2 separate regions of the Homo sapiens genome follow, and region 1 is linked to region 2. The links come from fine-mapping of genetic effects on gene expression. A gene starts in region 2. The other region holds a variant in brackets. All regions are shown on one strand. Distances are from middle to middle.

Region 1 (5,521 bases), 22 kb before region 2:
GTCCAGGGAAGTGGCCCAGGACTTCCCATATCTGGGGCACAATGCTCCCATCCCACACTGGAGAATCAAGATTGCACTGCACGGAGGAATTTTTAAAGAATTTTCCTAATATGGGAGTGAGACCTTGATCCATGATGGCTCCCAGATACTCAGAGGATAGAGCCAGCCCCTTGCTGTCAGCACCAACTTCCATCCTTAGAGCTGCCGCCTCTCCTAACCCCCCACTCAGAGTCCTGGCCCTGAGTCTGGCTTCCCCGGGCTGGGAGCCACGATGATCTCTGAAAACACCATCAGTGCTGGGAACTCAGAGGAGGTTTTGGGTGCTTTAGTTCCATGCATCTGCACCAGAGCTCCCTGGGCCCAGGCCCCACCTGATGGGCCCCATTCTCCCACAACATGGGGTCTTGGTTCTGAACCTGCCCTGGGGCTGGCCCCTGCCCCTAGCTGCCTCTTTCTGGTCCCCAGCCCTGCACAGGAAGGCCATCTGCATACCCGACCTTACCTATCATCCATCGGGAAGCTTTCCGATGCTACATGCTCACTGGTTTAAACTGTTGCTCCCCCCACAGCAGGCATCTCAGCCTCCAGCTGTTTGTCAGCTGCTTCACATGGCTTCCAGCTGCTGAGGCTGAAGAAAGCTGGAGGCTTCAGTGGATGCTTCTGCGGCAAAAAGCTTGCTGGGGAGAAGCAAGCAAGCACAAAAGAGCAAGTGCCTTCTCTCCTCCTGACCTCAGTCTCCTAGTGCCCCCTATTGGAAGAACCTGCCAGAACCAGCTGACCTGGGGACATGTAATTTGCACAGATCAAGCCCCAGTAGCGCCAACCTGACAAGTGGAGATCTGGAGCCGAGACTGAATAGCCAATGGACAGCACAACGCCCTGCCCTCCTTTCCTTGCTTGGCAAGCTCTTGCCCCTGCTCCAGGCCTTAGCTCAGGTGTCATTTCTTCCAGGCAGCTCTCTCTGGACCAGTTGTCCCACTGTGGCTTCCCACAGAGACATACACACGCTTCTATCCAGCACAGGATAGAAATGATCTCTTCATGCTTCTATCTCCCTTACTTGGCAATGAGCTTCTGGAGAAAAAGCGACTTTGTCTGTCAAGTTTTGTAATTCTCAGGGCTTACTGCATAGCTCTGTACATCTTTGTTGAGCCATAGCTCCTGCAGTTGTCAGCTCTCCCCGGAAGAAGGTTGAGGAGTAGGTGGAGCAGGATGGTTTTTCTTCAGGCTGTCTCTCATCCTGGGATTCCCAGGCACTGCCCCTTCATTCTCCGACAATAATAATGATTAACATTTGTTGAACCCCTGGCCGGCACCAGGCACAATTGTTCATACTTCCCATGTATCAACTCATTTAGTTTTCACAGATTTATGAACTGAGGTGCAGAGAAGTTAAGCGACTTGCCCAACGTTACACAGTGAGAAAATGGCAGAACCAGAACTTGAATCCAGGTAATCTGGGTTCCAGAGCCTGTGCCCTTAGCCCCTATGTTATTTTGTCCAAGGAGGATAGGAATCAGGAAAATGTGGCAAACTTATAATGCTGATGCCAACAATCAAAATAAGAAGCTTCCAGAAGAAGCTGCATAAGATAGTGTCTCACAGCCATGGGTGGACATGTGACACAATTCAGGGCCCTCCCTGTGGTTGTTCAAGTTGGTAGTGACAGAGCAGAGAAGCTCCTCTTAGGAGGTGAAGTTGGCTCCAGGCTTGCGGAAGAAGAGACTGACTTGCAGAGAGATGCAGGGGTGAGAGGGAATGACAGCGCCTCCTCTCCCTGCCCTGGGTCTTGGGCCTCTGAGCTGGTGAATCCCCCTTTTGCATTGCCTCATTTAATGTCAGTTTCTCACATTTGTGACTAAAGAGGCCTAACTAATACCAACTTATAATTTACAAAGTCCTGTCACAGGTCATTGATTCTTATGCCAGCATGAGGGGGCAGGCAGGGGGTCATATCCCCATTTCCAGAAGTGAAAACTGAGGCTTGGAACAGTTAAGTGACTTGCCAAGCAGCAAGTCAGTGGCAGAGCTGGCTGAGAAGCTGGTGCTTGGCCCCTCAGGCCAGGAGTCTGTCCTCTCCTCCGCCTTGTGCTCTCATGGGAGCTATGGAGAGGGGGTCTGGGTACCACCACCTGCCTCAGTACTCGTGGCTCGGAGCTTTGACCCGGCTGTGCTTCCTCTCATTCCTCTTGCTTTGTCTTGGGGCCTATGGGGCTGGGGGAAACAGGCACAGAGCTGGAGATGGCAGATTCTAGTACTACACACTCCACACCCCGACTTCCCATCCATGGAGCTCACAGGGAGAGGTTCCTGCAGCAGCTACAAGAACACCTCCCCCCCATACCAGCAACCAGGAAATCTCCCAGACAAACTGTGTACCCGGACTGTGGAGGCCACCCACCCCGCACCTCACCCACTCCTGGTACCTCCAGGGCCTGTAGGGAAGCTCCCCGCCCCCAAACCAGCTTTGGGGCTCTCTCTCTGGCCTGGGCCCCAGCTTCGTGGGGGAAGTGGGTGTAGCAGCCTCCTCTGGCCTGGGGGCTGGGAAACCTCAGGCACCTCTGCCTCCGCAGCTGGTAATCCAGCTTGGGCTTGCCAGAGGCCAGTCAGCTCCTCTTCTGAATCTGGATTAGAATCTTCTCGACCCTGGCAGGAAGAGCAGGAGGCCTG[C/T]GGTTGGAGGGCATTTCCTGTTTACTGCTGGTGTCAGTGTTGGTCTGAGAGGTCCACCCTTCTGTGGTTAAGTGAGCCCGGACATCTCCCACCCTCCCTTCAGGCCGACTCACATCCCTCGCCTGGTCCTTGTGAGAAGGTCTCTGCTTCCTCTGGTTCAGGGGAGCAGGTTACCATCTCTGGGTTTGCTCTCCTCCCCTTGCCTGGGCTGAAATGAGTCTTTCTAATGACAGCAGCAGTGGCCTGCCCTGTTGCCAAATTTAGCAAAAAAAAAGAAGAAGAAAGAAAAAAGAGAAAAAGGATGCAGGTTAAATTTGAATTTCAGATAAATAGCAAATAATGTTTTAGTGTTAGTAGTTCCTGTGTATTATCTGCGGATCCTAAATGAAGCTGGAGCCCAGGGAGATGAAGTGTCTTTTGGGATCTGATGATGAGCAACACAGGATTCCAGCCACTCAGCCGAAGACTCTATGCCCCCAACAGTCTGCCAGCCAGTCAAGCTTGGCCACTGTGGCTGGCTGTGTCTATCCTGCTGTGACTCCTGTCCTGTGATCATAGGTGTTCCCCCTGTAGGTTGTGAGATGGGGAGATAATGATTTAACCCCACCTCAAAGAGAGGCAGACACTCCCAAGCAGTGATTTTCAAAGTTTGGTCACACAGCAGCAGCAGCAGCAGCAGCAGCAGCATCCGTGATAATTAATTTTATGAGTCAACCTGACTGGGCGATGGGGTGCCTGGATATCTGGCCAAATGTTATTCTAGGTGTCTCTGTGAAGATGTTTCTGGATGATGTTAACATGATGTTAACTTTTTTTTTTTTTTAAAGACAGCTCACTGCAACCTCCACTTCCCAGGTTCAAGCGATTCTCGCGCTTCAGCCTGCTGAGTAGCTGGGACTACAGACACACACTACCATGCTCAGCTAATTTTTTGTATTTTTAGTAGAGAAGGGTTTCACCATGTTACCCAGGCTGGTCTTGAACTCCTGGCCTCAGGCAGCCTGCCTCCTCAGCCTTCCAAAGTGCTAGGATCATAGGCGTGAGCCACCACATCTGGCTGATGTTAACATTTGAAATGTCAGGCTGAATAAAAATTGTCCTCCCCAGTGTGGGTGGGCGCCATCCAATCAGTTGAAGGCCTGAATAGAACAAAGGGCTGACCCTGCCACAAGTAAGGGAGAATGCCTCCTGCTTGACTGCTTTTGAGCTGGGACATCATTTTTTTTTTAAGTTCTCAGACTCAAACTGAAACATTAGCTCCTCCTAGGTCTTCAGCCTGCAGACTTCTAGACTGGAACTACACCAGTAACTCTCCTGGGTCTCCATCTTCCTGACTACAGATTTAGGATTTGTCAGCCTCCATAATTGTGAGCCAATTTTTTTCTGGAAAGCCTGGCTTTCCAAAGAAATATATATATGCTTATCTTTGAGACAAGGTCTCACGCTGTTGCCCAGGATAGAGTGCAGTGGTGCCATCATGGCTCACCACAACCTTGACTTTCTGGGCTTAGGTGATTCTCTCACCTCAGCCTCCTGAGTGGCTGGGCCTATGCCCAGCTATGCCCAGATAATTTTTGTATATTTTTTTGTAGAGATGGGGTTTTGCCATGTTGTCCAGGCTGGTCTTAAACTCCTGGGCTCAAGTGATCCTCCCACCTCGGCCTCCCAAAGTGCTGGGATTACAGGCATGAAGCACTGCACTGAGCCCAATTTCTTATAAATAATCTTTTTACACACACACACACACACACACACATACACACACACACACACACATGCATCTATTGGTTCTGCTTCTCTGGTGATGCTGACCACAGCATCACCTTGGACCTTGTGAGAAAAGTGCATTTTCTTGGGCCCTGATCAGACCTACTGGATCAGAAACCCTGGGAGCGAGGCTCAGAATCTGAGTTTGGGAAAACCCTGCAGGTGATTCTGCTAAGAGTTAAGTTTGCTGCTTTTAAAATGAACATTAGAGAAAAGGGAGCTCAAAGTCCTTGACTTAGTTCTCTTATCTTTTATTGGAATATTCTTGGGTTTCATTGAGCACCTAATTTGGTTTCATCTACTATAAGTGGGTGTCAAACACTTGGTCTTCTAAATAGCCTGGATTTTGGGGTGAGGGGGGAGTGTAGAGGGAGATGAGGGTTGAGGCAGAGTCTTGAGGATTGCCCGAGCCACACCATCCACTTCCATGTGCTAAGGGATGACTGATATGGTTTGGCTCTGTGTCCCCACCCAAATCTCACCTTGAGCTGTAATAATCCCCATGTGTCAAGGGTGGAACCAGGTGGAAATAATTCAGTCATGGGGGTGGTTTTCCCCATGCTGTTCTCGTGATAGTGAGTTCTCACGAGATCTGATGGTTTTATAAGGGGCATCCCCCCTTAGCTTGGCACTCATTCTCCCTCCTGCTGCCCTGTGAAGAGGTGCCTTCCACCGTGACTGTATAAGTTTTCTGAGGCCTCCGCAGCCAGCCGTGTAGAACTGTGAGTCAATGAAAACTCTCTTCTTTATAAATTACCCAGTCTCAGGTATTTCTTCCTAGTAGCATGATAACTGACTAATACAATGACCTTGGTTTAATCAGGCAACTTTTAGAGTCATATCTTCCTCTAGTCAGCCAGGCTGGAGCTGGCTGTTAATCTACTTGGGCACCCTCTACCATGCTCTCCTCCACTCTACCCGACTTTCCCTGTTTCTAAAACATTTTACTGCTCAGTCCAAGGCTCCTGGTTTTCTTGCTGGTTCTGTCTCCCACTGTATAGCATTCATAAACAAGTCTCTACCACTCTAGGCCTCAGTTTCCTCATCTGAAAGACAAAAAGCTTAAGCCTGGGCTTCCAGGGAA
Region 2 (5,000 bases):
TTGTTGTAGTGATGTGAATCCAGTCTGAGGGAAGCACAGCACTTCCAGTCGTCTAAATAAGACGTTCCCTCTAGGAAGGGCTCTAGGCTTAGCAGCACTACTGCCTTATTTGATCTGATTTCATCTGTGGAGCCATATGGGGACCTAGCTCTTAACATATGAATTACATGTGAAAACACCGGGGTTCAGTCACAGTTGGCTGCATGGGTTTGCTTAATGATTTTCTTTTTAATGTTTACTTTTTTTTTTTCTTTTGAGCCAGGGTCTCATTCTGTCACCCAGGCTGGAGTGGGGTGTTGTGATCATAGCTCACTGCAGCCTTGCCCTCCTGGGCTCAAGCAATCCTCCCACCTCAGCCTCCTGAGTAGTTGAGATTATAGGTGCAGGCCACTCTCCTCCCCACGCCATCCCATTTTATTTTTCTCAGGGACAGGGACGGGGTTTTGTCATGTTACCCAGGCTGGTCTTGAACTCCTGAGCTCAAACAATTCTCCAGCCTGGGCCTCCCACGCCCAGGGATCACAGGCATGAGGTACTGTGCCCGGCCTGGTTAGATAATTGTTAAAGCGAAGTGTGGAACTGAGGTAAGAAACCCCCAGAAAATTCCACCTGCGTTTCTGAGCATTCGGGTTAATTCCCCACAGTCATTTACTGATCCTTGTAAATGCCAGGCATTGTGCTGGGTCTTCAAGATGCGGAGATAAGACAGAATCCTGGCCCTCCAACAACTGACAGAGACCGAGACAGAGACGGAGACAGGAGGCAACCACCTCCCGGTCATGTGGTGGGTCCCTCCTTTGCTGAAAAAACAGTTTGCAGACATTTCCCATGCAATGGATAGACAGAGCCCAGCCCATGCTGTTAATACTTTAGCACTCATGAGCCCCAGCATATGCAGCTCCTAGAGTTTGCCCCGCTCCTTCCCACCTTCCTGCTTGTGTTCAGGCTGTTTCTCCTGCCCGGGAGCCCTCCCCGACTCCCCTTTCCCCCTATCCCCTTCTTCCTCTTTTATCCGTAGAAATCGGTTGACTTGGGTCTTTCCGGATCACCGGTACTGTCATTTCATGCAGGATCTACAGGATAAATGAGTTCAGTCCTGGCGTGCATCAGGAGGCTACGCCCCAATAGAGGGGACACCCCCTAACCCGCTGTGCCCCATTTGCTAGCCCCTTACTCCTCCCCTCTTCTCCAGCCTCAAGCCTTTTCGTCTGCTCAGGGGTCTTGGGGTGGTTGGATTCTATTGAACCCGGAATATTGTACGTTCTATTGTACAATAGTGTATATTCTATTGTACATTCTATTGTACAATAGTGTATATTCTATTGTACATTCTATTGTACAATAGTGTATATTCTATTGTACATTCTATTGTACAATAGTGTATATTCTATTGTACATTCTATTGTACAATAGTGTATATTCTATTGTACATTCTATTGTACAAGTGTATATTCTATTGTACATTCTATTGTACAATAGTGTATATTCTATTGTACATTCTATTGTACAATAGTGTATATTCTATTGTACATTCTATTGTACAATAGTGTATATTCTATTGTACAATTTATCTCAGACAGTTCTCTGTTTTAAGAACCGGGATCAGAGTTCATAGTGAAAAGAGGGGCCGAAGGGGCTTCTTCCTGTCCGGTAACTTCCTCCAAGTGTTCGAGCCTCGACCTTCCCTTTCCGTTGTCAAGCTTGGGCCACTCCGCACCTCTTCCCTTAATCTTCACCTAGAGACCTAAGCTGGGGGTTGGGAAGGGTAGGGGCGGCGGGACTTGGAAGAGCCAGTTTGCAGCCAGCCGGTCGCCTCTCGGGTCCAAACCCGAGGCTGGCCCACGGCGAGTACCCGGGTGGGGCCCTAAACCACAGGAGGGGCCACCTCCAAAAGAAAAGAGAAAACACTCTTGTTTGGGAACAAAAGTGTGTGTGTGGGGTGTGTGTGTGTGTGTGTGTGTGTGTGTGTCTGTTTATTTAAAAACAAAACCACGTTAAAAGAGCTGCCCCTCCCCCACAGGCCCGACCACCCGCCGGGAGTTTGCCAGGAAGAGGGGCAATTCTGAATGGGAGTCGCCAACGCCCCACTGAGTGAAGCCTGTCTCGGAACCGCTCGCCCAGACCCTGGAGGCTCCAGACAGCCAGCTCCCGGACCCCGCGCGCAAACGCTGCGGCGAAGGAGGGGACCCGGGTACCGCCAGAGCCCCGCAGCGGCAGCAGCAGCGCGGACTCCCCGGTCGCTGCCTCTCCCAGCCCGGCGGCCTGGGCCGTCAATCAAGCTGGCCCTGCCCCGCCCTCGGGCTGCAGGGGGCGGCCAATCAGAGCTAAGCTCCGCAGCGATGAGCTCAGCCGGCTGGTTTCCCATTGGACGGCTATATTAAGAAAGTGGCCGGACTCTTTAAATAGCGGGCGCTAGGGCCGCAGCCCTCATCTGCCACCGCAGTCTGGTTGGAGCTGTTGTCTTGTATGCTCAGCGAGGCCCGGAGAGACCCGGGAGAGAGCTAGGCCGAGTCCACCGCCCGAGTCTGCTGCCCGAGCCCGCGTTACGCACAAAGCCGCCGATCCCCGGCCTGGGGTGAGCAGAGCGACCACCGCCCGGGAGCAGCGCGGCGAGACGCACGGTGCGCCCTATGCCCCCGCGCCCCCACCGCCCCCGCCGCGGCAGCCGAAGCGCAGCGAGAGAACGCGCCACCGCGGGGCCCGGGTGCAGCTAGCGACCCTCTCGCCACCTGCGCGCAGCCCGAGGTGAGCAGTGAGCGGCGAGCGGGAGGGCAGCGAGGCGTTCGCGGGCCCCCTCCTGCTGCCCGGGCCCGGCCCGCTCATGGCGGCCATCCGCAAGAAGCTGGTGGTGGTGGGCGACGGCGCGTGTGGCAAGACGTGCCTGCTGATCGTGTTCAGTAAGGACGAGTTCCCCGAGGTGTACGTGCCCACCGTCTTCGAGAACTATGTGGCCGACATTGAGGTGGACGGCAAGCAGGTGGAGCTGGCGCTGTGGGACACGGCGGGCCAGGAGGACTACGACCGCCTGCGGCCGCTCTCCTACCCGGACACCGACGTCATTCTCATGTGCTTCTCGGTGGACAGCCCGGACTCGCTGGAGAACATCCCCGAGAAGTGGGTCCCCGAGGTGAAGCACTTCTGTCCCAATGTGCCCATCATCCTGGTGGCCAACAAAAAAGACCTGCGCAGCGACGAGCATGTCCGCACAGAGCTGGCCCGCATGAAGCAGGAACCCGTGCGCACGGATGACGGCCGCGCCATGGCCGTGCGCATCCAAGCCTACGACTACCTCGAGTGCTCTGCCAAGACCAAGGAAGGCGTGCGCGAGGTCTTCGAGACGGCCACGCGCGCCGCGCTGCAGAAGCGCTACGGCTCCCAGAACGGCTGCATCAACTGCTGCAAGGTGCTATGAGGGCCGCGCCCGTCGCGCCTGCCCCTGCCGGCACGGCTCCCCCTCCTGGACCAGTCCCCCGCGAGCCCGGAGAAGGGGAGACCCGTGTCCCACAAGGACCCCACCGGCCTGCCTGGCATCTGTCTGCTGACGCCTCTGGCTTGCGCCAGGACTTGGCGTGGGCACCGGGCGCCCCCATCCCAGTGTCTGTGTGCGTCCAGCTGTGTTGCACAGGCCTGGGCTCCCCACTGAGTGCCAAGGGTCCCCTGAGCATGCTTTTCTGAAGAGCCGGGCCTCAGAGTGTGTGGCTGTGTGTCTGTTCGACTCCCCTCGCCCCATTTTCACCCCACCCCCGCCTCTGATCCCCGGGGGCGAGATTGGCGCGGGAGTGTGGCCGCGCCCCATCAGATGTTCGCCCTTCACCAGCGGGAGCTTGATATCCCTTGTCTGTAACATAGACCCCGGGTACTGCGGGAGGGGAGGGCTGCTGGGGAGGATGGGGGGATGTTATATAAATATAGATATAATTTTATTTTCGGAGCTAAGATGGTGTTATTTAAGGGTGGTGATGGGTGAGCGCTCTGGCCCAGGCTGGGCCAGACTCCCGCCCAAGCATGAACAGGACTTGACCATCTTTCCAACCCCTGGGGAAGACATTTGCAACTGACTTGGGGAGGACACAGCTTCAGCACAGCCTCTCCTGCGGGCCAGCCCGCTGCGAACCCTCCACCAGCTACCGGAGGGAGGAGGGAGGATGCGCTGTGGGGTTGTTTTTGCCATAAGCGAACTTTGTGCCTGTCCTAGAAGTGAAAATTGTTCAGTCCAAGAAACTGATGTTATTTGATTTATTTAAAGGCTAAAATTTGTTTTTTTATTCTTTGCACAATTGTTTCATTGTTTGACACTTAATGCACTCGTCATTTGCATACGACAGTAGCATTCTGACCACACTTGTACGCTGTAACCTCATCTACTTCTGATGTTTTTAAAAAATGACTTTTAACAAGGAGAGGGAAAAGAAACCCACTAAATTTTGCTTTGTTTCCTTGAAGAATGTGGCAACACTGTTTTGTGATTTTATTTGTGCAGGTCATGCACACAGTTTTGATAAAGGGCAGTAACAAGTATTGGGGCCTATTTTTTTTTTTTCCACAAGGCATTCTCTAAAGCTATGTGAAATTTTCTCTGCACCTCTGTACAGAGAATACACCTGCCCCTGTATATCCTTTTTTCCCCTCCCCTCCCTCCCAGTGGTACTTCTACTAAATTGTTGTCTTGTTTTTTATTTTTTAAATAAACTGACAAATGACAAAATGGTGAGCTTATGATGTTTACATAAAAGTTCTATAAGCTGTGTATACAGTTTTTTATGTAAAATATTAAAAGACTATGATGATGACATTTATAAAATGGCTCTTGTGGTTTAATAGTGTGTAAAAATACCCTTGTGAATTTGGAACAAGGGAGATATTCTCCTAGGCGAGATCCTTTCTTGCCAACTCCGTTTCCCTTATAGCAAATGTAGTAAATGAGGATGAAGTCCCTTTGAGAGCATGTGGGGGTTGGGTGACCAAGGGAGACCAGGTTGTTCCTGTCACATTCCTAGAGG

Evidence for each region. PIP is the estimated chance that this variant, and not a neighbour inherited with it, causes the effect.
Region 1: its variant is fine-mapped to the expression of RHOB in whole blood (TOPMed, PIP above 0.99).

What each region holds. Positions count from the first base shown.
Region 1 is chr2:20,422,326-20,427,846 of GRCh38, forward strand. It overlaps LOC105373465 (a long non-coding RNA gene), which reads right to left and starts at 2,620. Exons shown (of 5, transcript XR_001739317.2): 1 at 2,427-2,620; 2 at 503-2,214. RefSeq lists enhancers at 1-381, 2,515-2,674, 2,735-2,784. The variant C/T (reference allele first, on the strand shown) is at 2,671.
Region 2 is chr2:20,444,645-20,449,644 of GRCh38, forward strand. RHOB (ras homolog family member B) reads left to right here and starts at 2,430. Exons shown (of 1, transcript NM_004040.4): 1 at 2,430-4,796. The coding sequence starts at 2,822. The coding sequence ends at 3,412. RefSeq lists silencers at 2,139-2,388, 2,639-2,848.